Regions from separate parts of the Homo sapiens genome. Here region 2 is linked to region 1. Evidence: fine-mapped expression QTL. A gene starts in region 1. The other region holds a variant in brackets. All regions are shown on one strand. Distances are between the middles of the regions. Region 1 holds the start of RAMP1 (receptor activity modifying protein 1). Region 2 overlaps RAMP1 (receptor activity modifying protein 1).

What was found. PIP is the estimated chance that this variant, and not a neighbour inherited with it, causes the effect.
Region 2: its variant is fine-mapped to the expression of RAMP1 in whole blood (TOPMed, PIP 0.99).

The regions. Positions count from the first base shown.
Region 1 is chr2:237,857,514-237,862,883 of GRCh38, forward strand. It overlaps RAMP1 (receptor activity modifying protein 1), which reads left to right and starts at 2,110. Exons shown (of 3, transcript NM_005855.4): 1 at 2,110-2,214. The coding sequence starts at 2,163. RefSeq lists enhancers at 1-710, 711-1,497.
Region 2 is chr2:237,903,500-237,908,869 of GRCh38, forward strand. The region is part of intron 2 of RAMP1 (receptor activity modifying protein 1); the gene reads left to right. Among named protein-coding and RNA genes, the nearest start is that of RAMP1, 47 kb to the left of the region's middle. The variant A/C (reference allele first, on the strand shown) is at 2,682.

The DNA.
Region 1 (5,370 bases):
AGGAAAATCATTAGGAGAGAACATGCCTCTAGGTGTGTGCCTTACTTCAGCATTCTCCAGAGAACTGTGAATTTCTAAAGCATGTGAACTTGAGAAATAGGCTTTGTCTTCTTAGGAAAATGTATCCTTTAGGGGGTGTTGAGAAAACAGCAGTGACAGGGGCCTCTGGCCTTGCCTCCTTGCAGTCAAGCTTCAAAGAGAAAACGTTGGGAAGAAAGACTCCTGCTGAGCCTGATGAAAGAGGAGTCCCAGTTGCCAACCAAAAACATGCAGCCAAAGTCCACAAGCTACAAGTAGAAAGGGTGGCTCAAGCCAGAGTCCCTGGATATGGAGGGCGAGTGATGGCTGCAGAAAGATGCAGGTTCTTCTCCCCCACTATGACTGGCCATCGCCTAGTGCAGGATGTACGGTGGCCCTGTCCCAGGGCTGTGCTGGCAGCCACCCTTCCCCACTAGCTGTGCTGCTCTCACATGGCACGGCCTCTGGCTGCCAGGCCTGTGCTCGGGCCTGCATTTCCCTTGTGCCCTTCTCTCCACCCAGCCCTCAGGACTGCCTGGGCTGCATTTTGTCCAGAATCCTTTGTCTCCTTACTTGCACTGCAGCTGAGGCGAGTGTCCCTTGTTCCGGGTGGCTCCTGTATTGTGGCGCTCATGTTATTGAGAGTCTTAGAGGTCACCCCCTAGATTCACCAATTGAAGGGCAGGGCTTGTCGATCTAACAGTGTCTTGCACATAGGGACACAAATGTCTGTTAAATGAAGAAAGTAGGGATGCCAGGCCACCCAATGGGGTGTATCTCCTAGGGTTCAAGAACAAGGGCTAATCAAGTCAAGAGAATGTGTGCCCTCCCCCACCATCTCACCCCTCACTCTCAGAACACTTGGGGCCCCTGCACAGGTGGTAGGCATGCTGGCCCTGAGTGCCCTCCCAGCCTGTGTTAGAAGAACCAGTGGATGACCTCGCTGTCAGCTGTCTCCCCTTCTCTGAGCTTACTGCAGGTGGCAGCAGCCTCTCAGCCACAGACTGTTCCCTTTCCTAGGAGAAAACGATGGTCACTCAGCAATGCTGTGCGCTTGCAGCTTCCACCACAAAAGAGACAGCTGTGGCCGCAGCACCAGGGTGGTGATTCTTCCCCCTCCAAGGGCAGTGGTGCATTCCTTAGCACAAGTATAAATTTACTGTTGCTAAGAGTTCTCGGAACAGGATAATACAAGAAGGAACCACTGCAAGTGAAATCCAGCCACCAGTAATGCCGAGAGGCCAGGCCTGTGCCTCCCAAAACCTGCTCCTCCGCAGGCTTCCCCGGCCCATCTCCAGAGCGCCCTCCTCTCACCACTTTACATAAACGAATGTACCCAAGATCCCCCATCAGTTTTCCATGCAGCTGCCAGAGTGCCACCAAAGCAAACCTCATCTCAAGACTCTGTGGCCAGGCCCTCACAACCTCCTGCCAGGCTCTCGCTACCTACCCATCAACAGCAAGACTCCCAGGCCATCTCAATCCCCCCAAAGAGCCCTGTTCCTCCAGCCCCACGGCTTCTGTTCACCTGCCGTGCTGTCCCCGCCTCTGCCCACCCACTCATCCTGCAGATCTGGAGCAGCATTCCAGGGCCTGGTAAGTGTGCGCCATTTTGGGTTACTACGGGTCTCGCCAGGCGCGGTGGCGAGTTTTGCCCCCCACGCTCCCCAGCGCCTGCACCTGGGCGGAGAGGTAGATAAGGCTGGGAGATCTTAGCCTTTTGCAAGGCAAACACCAGGCAGGAACGCCCAGAACCTCGGAGGAGGAGGAGGGGAAGATCCCCAGGTGGAGACCAAGGTGCCCCTCACGCTGAGTCGTCTAGGAGACCCTCCCTAGTTTAAAAAGTGTTTATTTGCTCGGAGAACATTTCAGGAGGCCTTCCTGGGACCCCAAGTGTGCCGCCCCCCGGGAGGGGCCTGGAGACGCCCGCGCGGCCCCCCTGCAAAGTTTTACCGGCCCTGGGCGCCCCCGGCCCTGGCACCCACGCGGGGAGCCGCAGTGGGCCGGGCCGCGCGGCCGCCGCCTCCCACCGCTCCCGCGCCCGCTCCCGCCCCCGGCGCGTCTCCTCCGGGCCCGCGCCGCGGCGGGCTCAGTCCTCAGCGGGGCGCGTGGCGAGCGGACTCGACTCGGCACCGCTGTGCACCATGGCCCGGGCCCTGTGCCGCCTCCCGCGGCGCGGCCTCTGGCTGCTCCTGGGTGAGTAGGTCCAGGGGTCCCGGCCGAGCTCCCTTCCCCTGGCCAGCCGGTGTCCTCTAGGGGAGAGGAGGGGAGCGGGTGGGAGCGGGTGGGAGCGGGTGGGGGCGGGCGCCGCGGGCGCACAGATCCGCTGCCCTTGAACGCGGGCCGCCCCGGTTCCAGGCGGGAGGCCCCAGGGCACAGGGGAGGCGGAGGGCGCGGACCGGTGTTGCGCTTCTCGCCGGGGAAGGGACGGCTTTGGGGACGTCGGAGAGCGGGCATTCTGGAAAGCGTGGGGTGAGTCAGCCCTGCACACTGGAGAACTAGTTTTCAGAAGGAAAAACAGGACGCGGGGTTCCCCAGCCCCGCACCTCGTTTCTCAGGCTGTGCGCCGCGGTGACTGCCAGCGCAGGCTCCCTTCCCTAGGCCGTCCCGCGTTGCAAAACCTGCAGACGGGCACCTTGCAGAAGACGCAGTGTTCGGGAATCAGAACCACAGCCGGTTTGTATGGAAATTAGTCAACACTGACAATCTGTCGCCTGCAGCAGTTGCTTGTTTGCAAATCACGTCTTTTGCAGAAATGAGGCCAGCCCTTTTCGGGACACTTCCATCGCTTTTTTTCTTTTTTCTTTTGGTTTGCTTGTTAACTTGGCACTTTTGGCTAATAGAAATTTAAAGAAGGACGGGTCCCTTGGTGAAGTGGTGGAACACGTTTGGCTTTCCACTTGGAGGGAGAAGTGGAGATTAGCGGCAGCCTCATGGCCACAGGAACTGGCCACACACTCGGCAAGAAACGGTGCTGTTCACTTCCCTTGTCTGTAATGTGTTCCTAAAATGCTAACTCAAGCCCCTTCTAAACCGCTTTGGCTATTGCATTATTCCGTGTATTTAGCTACCTTTTAACGGAAACTGTGAATAGGTTACTGGCGTGGGAGAACCCAGTGTCCCTGGGAAGGCCGGAGCAGTTGTTTCTGGTATGTGTGGCCTTTCCCCGGAAACAGTGATGTTGGTCAGAGGCACCTGCCGCACAAGACCTCTTTGGCGCTGGCACTGGGCAAGCAGGGACCACCGGCGCTGTTGTAGCTGGGGGAGTGGTTCGTGGCCCAGCGAGGAGAGGGGCCAGGGCTTCTTGGGAGCCATGGATTTCTGTTCCCTATTTGTAAACCTCTCCAAGGGGTGGCAGATCTGCATAGAATCCTCAGAGGCCGATATAATATAATCTGAAAGCGGATCTTGCCACTTTAGAGTTTTGGCTGAAGTTACGTGGAAAGCAGAATCTCGCAGTAATTTTATTCTCTCCATTTGGCTTGACATGGCCTTCACTGTTTTCATTTACTAAGAAACAAACATTTCTTTGTTAGCAAGGCAGAGAGCTGGGTTGTGGAATATTTTTTACATAAATAACCAAATAAATAAACGTTCTTTACTAGTGTCCAGAGGCTGAACCCTCTAAAGCTTGTGTAAATAAAACACTATGTCACGATCACATATAAAGACCTTCCTTGTTTACCGAGAAAACTATTCATGTTCTGCCGAAAGTCCAAAGTCCTGTAATTTTAACGTTATTTTGAGTGGCCTGGCTAATGTTATCTCTTGGAAGAACAAACAAAACTTTATGAGGTTATCAGTAAATTAATGTCATTGGAGCCCAGCTGTAATTAGTAGAATTACTGAGCACAGGCTGTTTCCTTCCCAAGCTGTAGCACTAGCCAGGTCTCCTTGGTGATGAAGATTTTGCTACCAAGAATGGCAATGTGGAATTTTTTTAAGTACTCTAGTTTACAGGTTTAAGAACTTATCTGTGACAATTTTACAATCAAGCTATTTGTCTTAGGTAGTTATTAAGAATCTCATAATCCGGCCAGGCATGGTGACTCACGCCTGTAATCCCAGCACTTTGGGAGGCTGAGGTGGGTGAATCGCCTGAGGTGAGGAATTCAAGACCAGCCTGGCCAACATGGTGAAACCCCGTCTCTACTAAAAATACAAAAAAAATTAGGCAGGCATGGTGGCAGGCACCTATAATCCCGGCTACTTGGGAGGCTGAGGCAGGAGAATCGCTTGAACTCAGAAGGCAGAGGTTGCAGTGAGCTGAGATCATGCCACTGCACTCCAGCCTGGGTGATAAGAGTGAAACTCCGTCTCAAAAAAAAAAAAAACTTAGGATCCATATATAGTTCTTTTCCCTCTGAGCATCCTGTGTACTCTTCTGTTTACTGGAGACTCTACATGCATTCTGAAAAGTTTGTGTATAGACACCGAAAAGCTGTTCGTTAACCAGGAAAGAAGGATGCGTTAGAAGCCCCTGGTTTTTCGAGTCCATCTTCACTCAGGGAATGCTGGCTGGTGCTGTCACACATGAACTCAGTCACCTGTCCTAGGAAACGCATGCCTTCCTTGGCTGTCACGTGGGAGCCAGGGGTTTTTTTAATGGCTGCAACATTAATTGAAATGTATGACTTTATATAAATACAAGTAGAATTGGAATGACAGGGACATCACAGGAAATGCTATGTGACTGCTTCAGATTGCCATGCGGTTTTAAATCTGGACACAGTTCTCATGCCAAAGTCCAAATCTGAAGGATTCTTATTTGTTAATCAACTCAGTGTGTTTGTTTACCCTCTCTGTGTGTCTAGCTGCAGGAAGAAATTTCTGGATTTTTGTCTTCCTTCCACAGGCGCATGCCTGTCAGCGTGCTTATTACCAGTCCGAGGCCAGGGCTGTTGAGAAACATTTATATCCACAGTGCAAATGGTAGATTCAGCTCCGGGAAATGTTTTAGGTGGAATCTTTAGTTAAGGCTAGTTGGAAAAGTCTGTCCTGATTTTTTTCCCCAGAATGCGCCCATTTCATAGCTTCTAATCAGTTACAACTGGCGTCTGGCTGACTGTGTGATGCAGGTGCCATGTGTAGTGTGAATTCCAGCGGAAATGCTGAGCCCAGAGAGTGAAGCCCCTCGGGCTTGCCTGCCAGTGCCCCTGCCAGTGCCCCCACCCCCAACTCAGGCCTAGAACCCCTCTTTCCTGACGGTCTTTGTGGTATGGTGGGCTGGCCCTCAGTGGTCTCTGAGCCAGGCCTGGCCATCCAGATGGTCCCAGGGAGGAGACTGGCCGCAGGCTGGACAGTCAGTGTTCTGCTGGAACCACGGGGAAAAGCTGCGTCTTTCCTCCAGGC
Region 2 (5,370 bases), 46 kb after region 1:
ACCTTCACTAGCATTCAGCATTATTTTCTTTTTTTTTGAGACAGGGTCTTATTCTGTTGCCCAGGCTGGAGTGCAGTGGCAGGAACATAGCTCACTGCAGCCTCAATCTCCCACCTCCCTGGGCTCATGTGATCCTCTGACCTAAGCCTCCCAACTAGCTGGGACTACAGGTGCATCCCAGCACTGGCAAATGTTTGTTGTTGTTGTTTCTTTAAGACAGAGTCTCGCTCTGTCACCCAGGCTGGAGTGCAGTGGTGCGATCTCCGCTCGCTGCAACCTCCACCTCCCAGGTCCACGCCATTCTCCTGCCTTAGCCTCCCGAGTAGCTGGGACTACAGGCACCCGCCACCACGCCCGGCTAATTTTTTGTATTTTTGGTAGAGTTGGGGTTTCACTGTGTTAGCCATTTTGTATTTTTTTGTAGAGACAAGGTCTCACTATGTTTCCCAGGCTGCTCTCAAACTCCTAGGCTCAAGCAATCCTCCGGCCTAGGCCTCCCCCAGCGTTGGGTTTACACGTGTGAGCCACCACGCCCAGCCTAGCATTCTCCTTTTTAAGAGGAGTGCCATCTGGATGTTTGGTCTTTCATTTCACATGCTTAGTAGTCATTTGTATTTCTAGAAGAAATATTGGGCCGGGCTCAGTGGCTCACGCCTGTAATCCCAGCACTTTGGGAGTCTGAGGCGGGCGGATCACGAGGTCGGGAGATCAAGACCATCCTGGCTAACACGGTGAAACCCCGTCTCTACTAAAAATACAAAAAAAAAAAATAGCCAGGGCGTGGTGGCGGGCACCTGTAGTCCCAGCTACTCGGGAGGCTGAGGCAGGAGAATGGCATGAACCCAGGAAGTGGGGCTTGCAGTGAGCTGAGATCATGCCACTGGACTCCATCCTGGGCAACAGAGCAAGACTCTGTCTCAAAAATAGAATAAAAATCAAAATAAATAAATAAATGAAAGTTAGCCAGGTGTGGTGGTGCACGCCTGTAATCCCAGCTATTCTGGAGGGTGAGGCAAGAGGATCACCTGAGCCCGGGAGGCAGAGGTTGCAGTGAGCCAAGATCGTGCCACTGCACTCCAGCCCGAGCAACAGAGCAAAACGCTGTCTAAAATAATAAATAAATTTTAAAAAGCGAATATAAAGCCAAAAGTGCTTTCCCCTCAGATTTTCTGACAATTTAGACACACATTGCCTGGTCACCTTTTGCTTAAGTATAAACTCAAAAAGGACAAGAAATGTATACGTCATGAGCCAGTCAAGTGAGGACCTGTATCTTTATCTTAATAGGAGACTAAGACTTGAACAAGCGAATGAGGTCTCCAGGATCACTCTGGGTAAGAGGTGGAGCTGGGATTTGAACCCAGGTCTATGGGTGACAGGGCCCAGGCTCAGATATTTCATATTAGGGCCAGCCGGGGGTAGCTGGGGGACAACTGCAACCCAGGGTGTCCCCAGAGTAGATGACTCACCTGTGAGCATCAGTGATCACACTTTCTTACCAGCAAGTAACCATGAACAGTGGTGTCGGGCCTTGACTTGGGACCCAGATATGCTGGAAACTCCCACCATAGGATTCAGGAACATTCCAAGCAAAGTTTGCTTCGAGCCCCAGAATAGAAGGTCCTAGCCAAAAAAGGATAATTACTCAGTGACACGAGAACTGAAACTTTAGGGAGTTAAAGCCAGGGTGTATTTTTCATGACTATTTTGGGTCCTTCAGTCCGTTCTGTGTTCTTTTGGGCAGAAGAATGTCTGTACTCTGAGGGGAATTCTTTTATCACATCCTCACTGACGGAGCTCACAACATTTATTGAAAGTTTCAGCTGTCACTTCTGTATAAATAAACAGGATGAAGTGGGCAGCCGACTGCACATTAGAGATATTTTTAGACGTGGGTGGCACTGCAATCCAGAAGGCTGACATATCAAGGAGAGAGTGCCTGATCCCAGAATAGCCCACCCACACACGGCCCTATCTGCCTCAGCGTGGCCTCGGCGTGGGTTCTGTGGTGGCGTGGCTTCCTGCATCCGCTCCTTCCTGTTCTGTTTGGCCAGTGCAGAGATGGCAATAGCTCCTCCTAAAAATGCCACAGCTCCGCTCCTCAGAGGACAGGGGTCAGTGTTCAGGATCATGTGTCACTGGATCTGCAGAACACCAAAAACTAAACTGCCTGCGGGTTTGGTGGGTCTGAGATATGGGAGAGGATCATCATTCAAAGCAGGCTTCATTGGTCAGATGCAGTGGCTCACGCCTGTAATCCCAGCACTTTGGGAAGCCAAGGAGGGTAGATCACCTGAGGTCAGGAGTTCGAGACCAGCCTGGCCAACATAGTGAAACCCCATCTCTACTAAAAATACAAAAATTAGCCAGGCATGGTGGACCATGTCTGTAGTCCCAGCTACTTAGGAGGCTGAGGCAGGAGAATCGCTTGAACCTGGGAAGCGGAGGTTGCAGTGAGCTGAGATTGTACCACTGCACTCCAGCCTGGGCAACAGAGCAAGACTCTGTCTCAAAAAAAAAAAAAAAAAAAAGGCAGCATTCTCACTGTTTAGCCCTGTAGTTGAGAAGGCTGGACTTGGTTTTCAGCAACAATAACACGTCTAACATTTACCATGGACCGGCCACATAACGTGCACTCATTCGTTTTTCCCCCACGATGAGACTCAAACCGTCACGACTTC[A/C]TGTGGCTTTTTCCACTTCTGTTTTCTTCTTGAAACATGAGTCCTTGTTCACCTGGAGAGACCACACACCCCAATGCCTACAGGCACGGCACACTCTCTGCTGCCTCTCCCTCCTCATGCCTCATCTACTAGGCCTCTTGGATGGGCTAAGGGAGGCCCTGCACACTCAGGGCAGTGACCTAGAGGGCAGCCAGGAAGGAAAAACAGTGACCGTACGATAGGGGCGGGGGTAGAGGGGTGCTGGGATGCCGGAGAGGCCCCTACTTTTTCTGTATAGCCTCTTAAAGCCCCCAGGGGTCTCCTCACATTTAATTTATGGCCTCTGATCCATTTACTCACTTTCTAGATTAAATATAAGGAAAAGTACCCTTCTATTGTCTTCATTTTCACTGTTTTTGGAGCCCTTCATCTATTTATGTGGATCTCAAACTCTTTCTTATCACTGAAGAACTTTCTTTGACATTTCTTGTAGCACAGGTCTGCTGGCAATGAATTCTCTCAGCTGCTTTTTTCTCAAAAGGTTCTTATATCAACCTCTTTTTTTTTTTTTTTTTTTTTTTTAAAGACAGTCTTGCTCTGTCACCCAGGCTGGAGTGCAATGGCGTGATCTCAACTCACTGCAACCTCCGCCTCCCAGGTTCAAGTAATTCTCCTGCCTCAGCCTCCCGAGTAGCTGGGATTACAGGCATCTGCCACCATGCCCAGCTAATTTTTGTATTTTTAGTAGAGATGAGGTTTCACCATGTTAGCCAGGCTGGTCTCGAACTCCTGACCTCAAGTGATCCGCCTGCCTTGGCCTCCCAAAGTGCTGGAATCACAGGTGTGAGCCAATGTGCCCAGCCTCAACCTCATTTTCAAAAGGTATTTTTTTCTAGGTATAGAATTCCAGGCTGACAAATGTGTTTCCCCTCCCCGCAACCTCTAATACTTTCAAGATGTTGCCCATTGTCTTCCCACATGACAAGCCTCTGATAAGAAATTAAGAAATCTGCTGTAACTCACTGTTCTTCTGTATGTCTTTTTTCCTCTGACCTCAAGATTTTTTCCTTTTTCTTTGGTGCTCAGCAGTTGGAGTTTGATGTGTCTATTTGGTTGTTTGCTGTTGTAGCTGCTTTGTTTTCTGTCCTGCTTGAGGTTCTCCAAGCTTCTTGGATCTGCGATTTTATGTCTTTCATTATTTTTTTAAAAGCCTGAGCCATTATCTCTTCAAATATTTCTTCTGCTCCATTCCCTCTCCTCTTTCTGGGACTCTCACATTATGAGTTGAGGTTGATGTCATTTATAGGATTGTCATGTTACACAGTTCTTGGATGCTCTGGTTTTCCCTCACTTTTTTTTCTCTTTGTGTTCCAGTTTGGTTAATTTCTACTGACATCTTCAATTTCTCTCTTTCCTCAGTTTTCGTGTCTGCTGATGGGCCCATTGAAGGAATTCTCTCTGATGCCATATCTTTTTATTTCTAGCAACTGTCTTTGACTTTGAGTTTTCACTTCTCTGCTTAAATTCTCCATCTGTTCATGCATATTGTCTGCCATTTCCACTAGACCCGTTGTCATACTAGCCATTCTAACATAACTGTCTGATAGTTACAACATCTAGGTCGTCTCTGAGTCTAACTCCATTCATTGTTTTGCCTCTTGACAATGGGTTGGTTGTTTTTTGTTGCTTCTGAACAAAAAATATATAATTTTTATTGAATACTGAACATTCATGTATAGAACAGAGGTGACTACGGTCAATAGTATTTACATATGGAAATGGGTAATCCTCTTCTGTCAGACCGTTAGTGTGGGATTTGAGTCAATCTTGTTAGGAATTGAGCTGGGTTTGGGATTTGTCATTGTTATGGTTATCTTCAATGTACCATAGGCCTCAAGTACCTCTAGCAATGAGCTGTCATTGCCTTGTGCCCAGGGTTGGGACTAGGGCACTGGAGGAGATTCCTCAGTGTGGTGCCCCACCCTCTGCTTTCAGCTTTCTCTTGCCTGCCTGTGCTGCAGCATGGATCTTACCCCACTTTCTCTCGGCAGTAGACAGCTGCTGCTTGTTATTCTACCAAGGTTATGTTCAAGGCTTGGGGTGGGTTCTCTGTGTACTGGTCCAGCCTCAGTTTAGACAGGCCCTTCCCTGTGCCCTTCACCCCAGCATTCCTACCCCTCTTCCCTGTGGCAAACTCTGTCGGGGTCTTGGGTGTGACTGTCCTGTCCCTTCCCCAGTGAGAAGAGACCTCTGGTGGTGGTGGTGGTGGTGGTGGTGGTGTTTTTGAGACAGAGTCTTGCTCTGTCACCCAGGCTAGAGTGCAGTGGCATGATCTCGGCATGATCTCGGCTCACTGCAACCTCCACCTCCTGGGTTCAAGCGATTCTCTTGCCTCAGACTCCCTCGTAGCTGGGATTACAGGTGCCCGCCACTGTGCCTGGCTAATTTTTGTATTTTTAGTAGAGATAGGGTTTCACCATCTTGGCCAGGCTGGTCTTGAACTCCTGACCTTGTGATCCACCCGCCTCAGCCTCCCAAAGTGCTGGGATTACAGGTGTTAAGCCACCACACCCAGCCAAGGCCTCTGTTTTCTATGGTGCAGGATCGTAGGCCAGGATGGTTTCCTGGTGCCCTTCCAAGGAAAAAGAGTTCCTTCCTATCCTTCCCCTAGCCATGGTGTGTCTTTGTCTGTGCCCTGGGGGTGACAGGC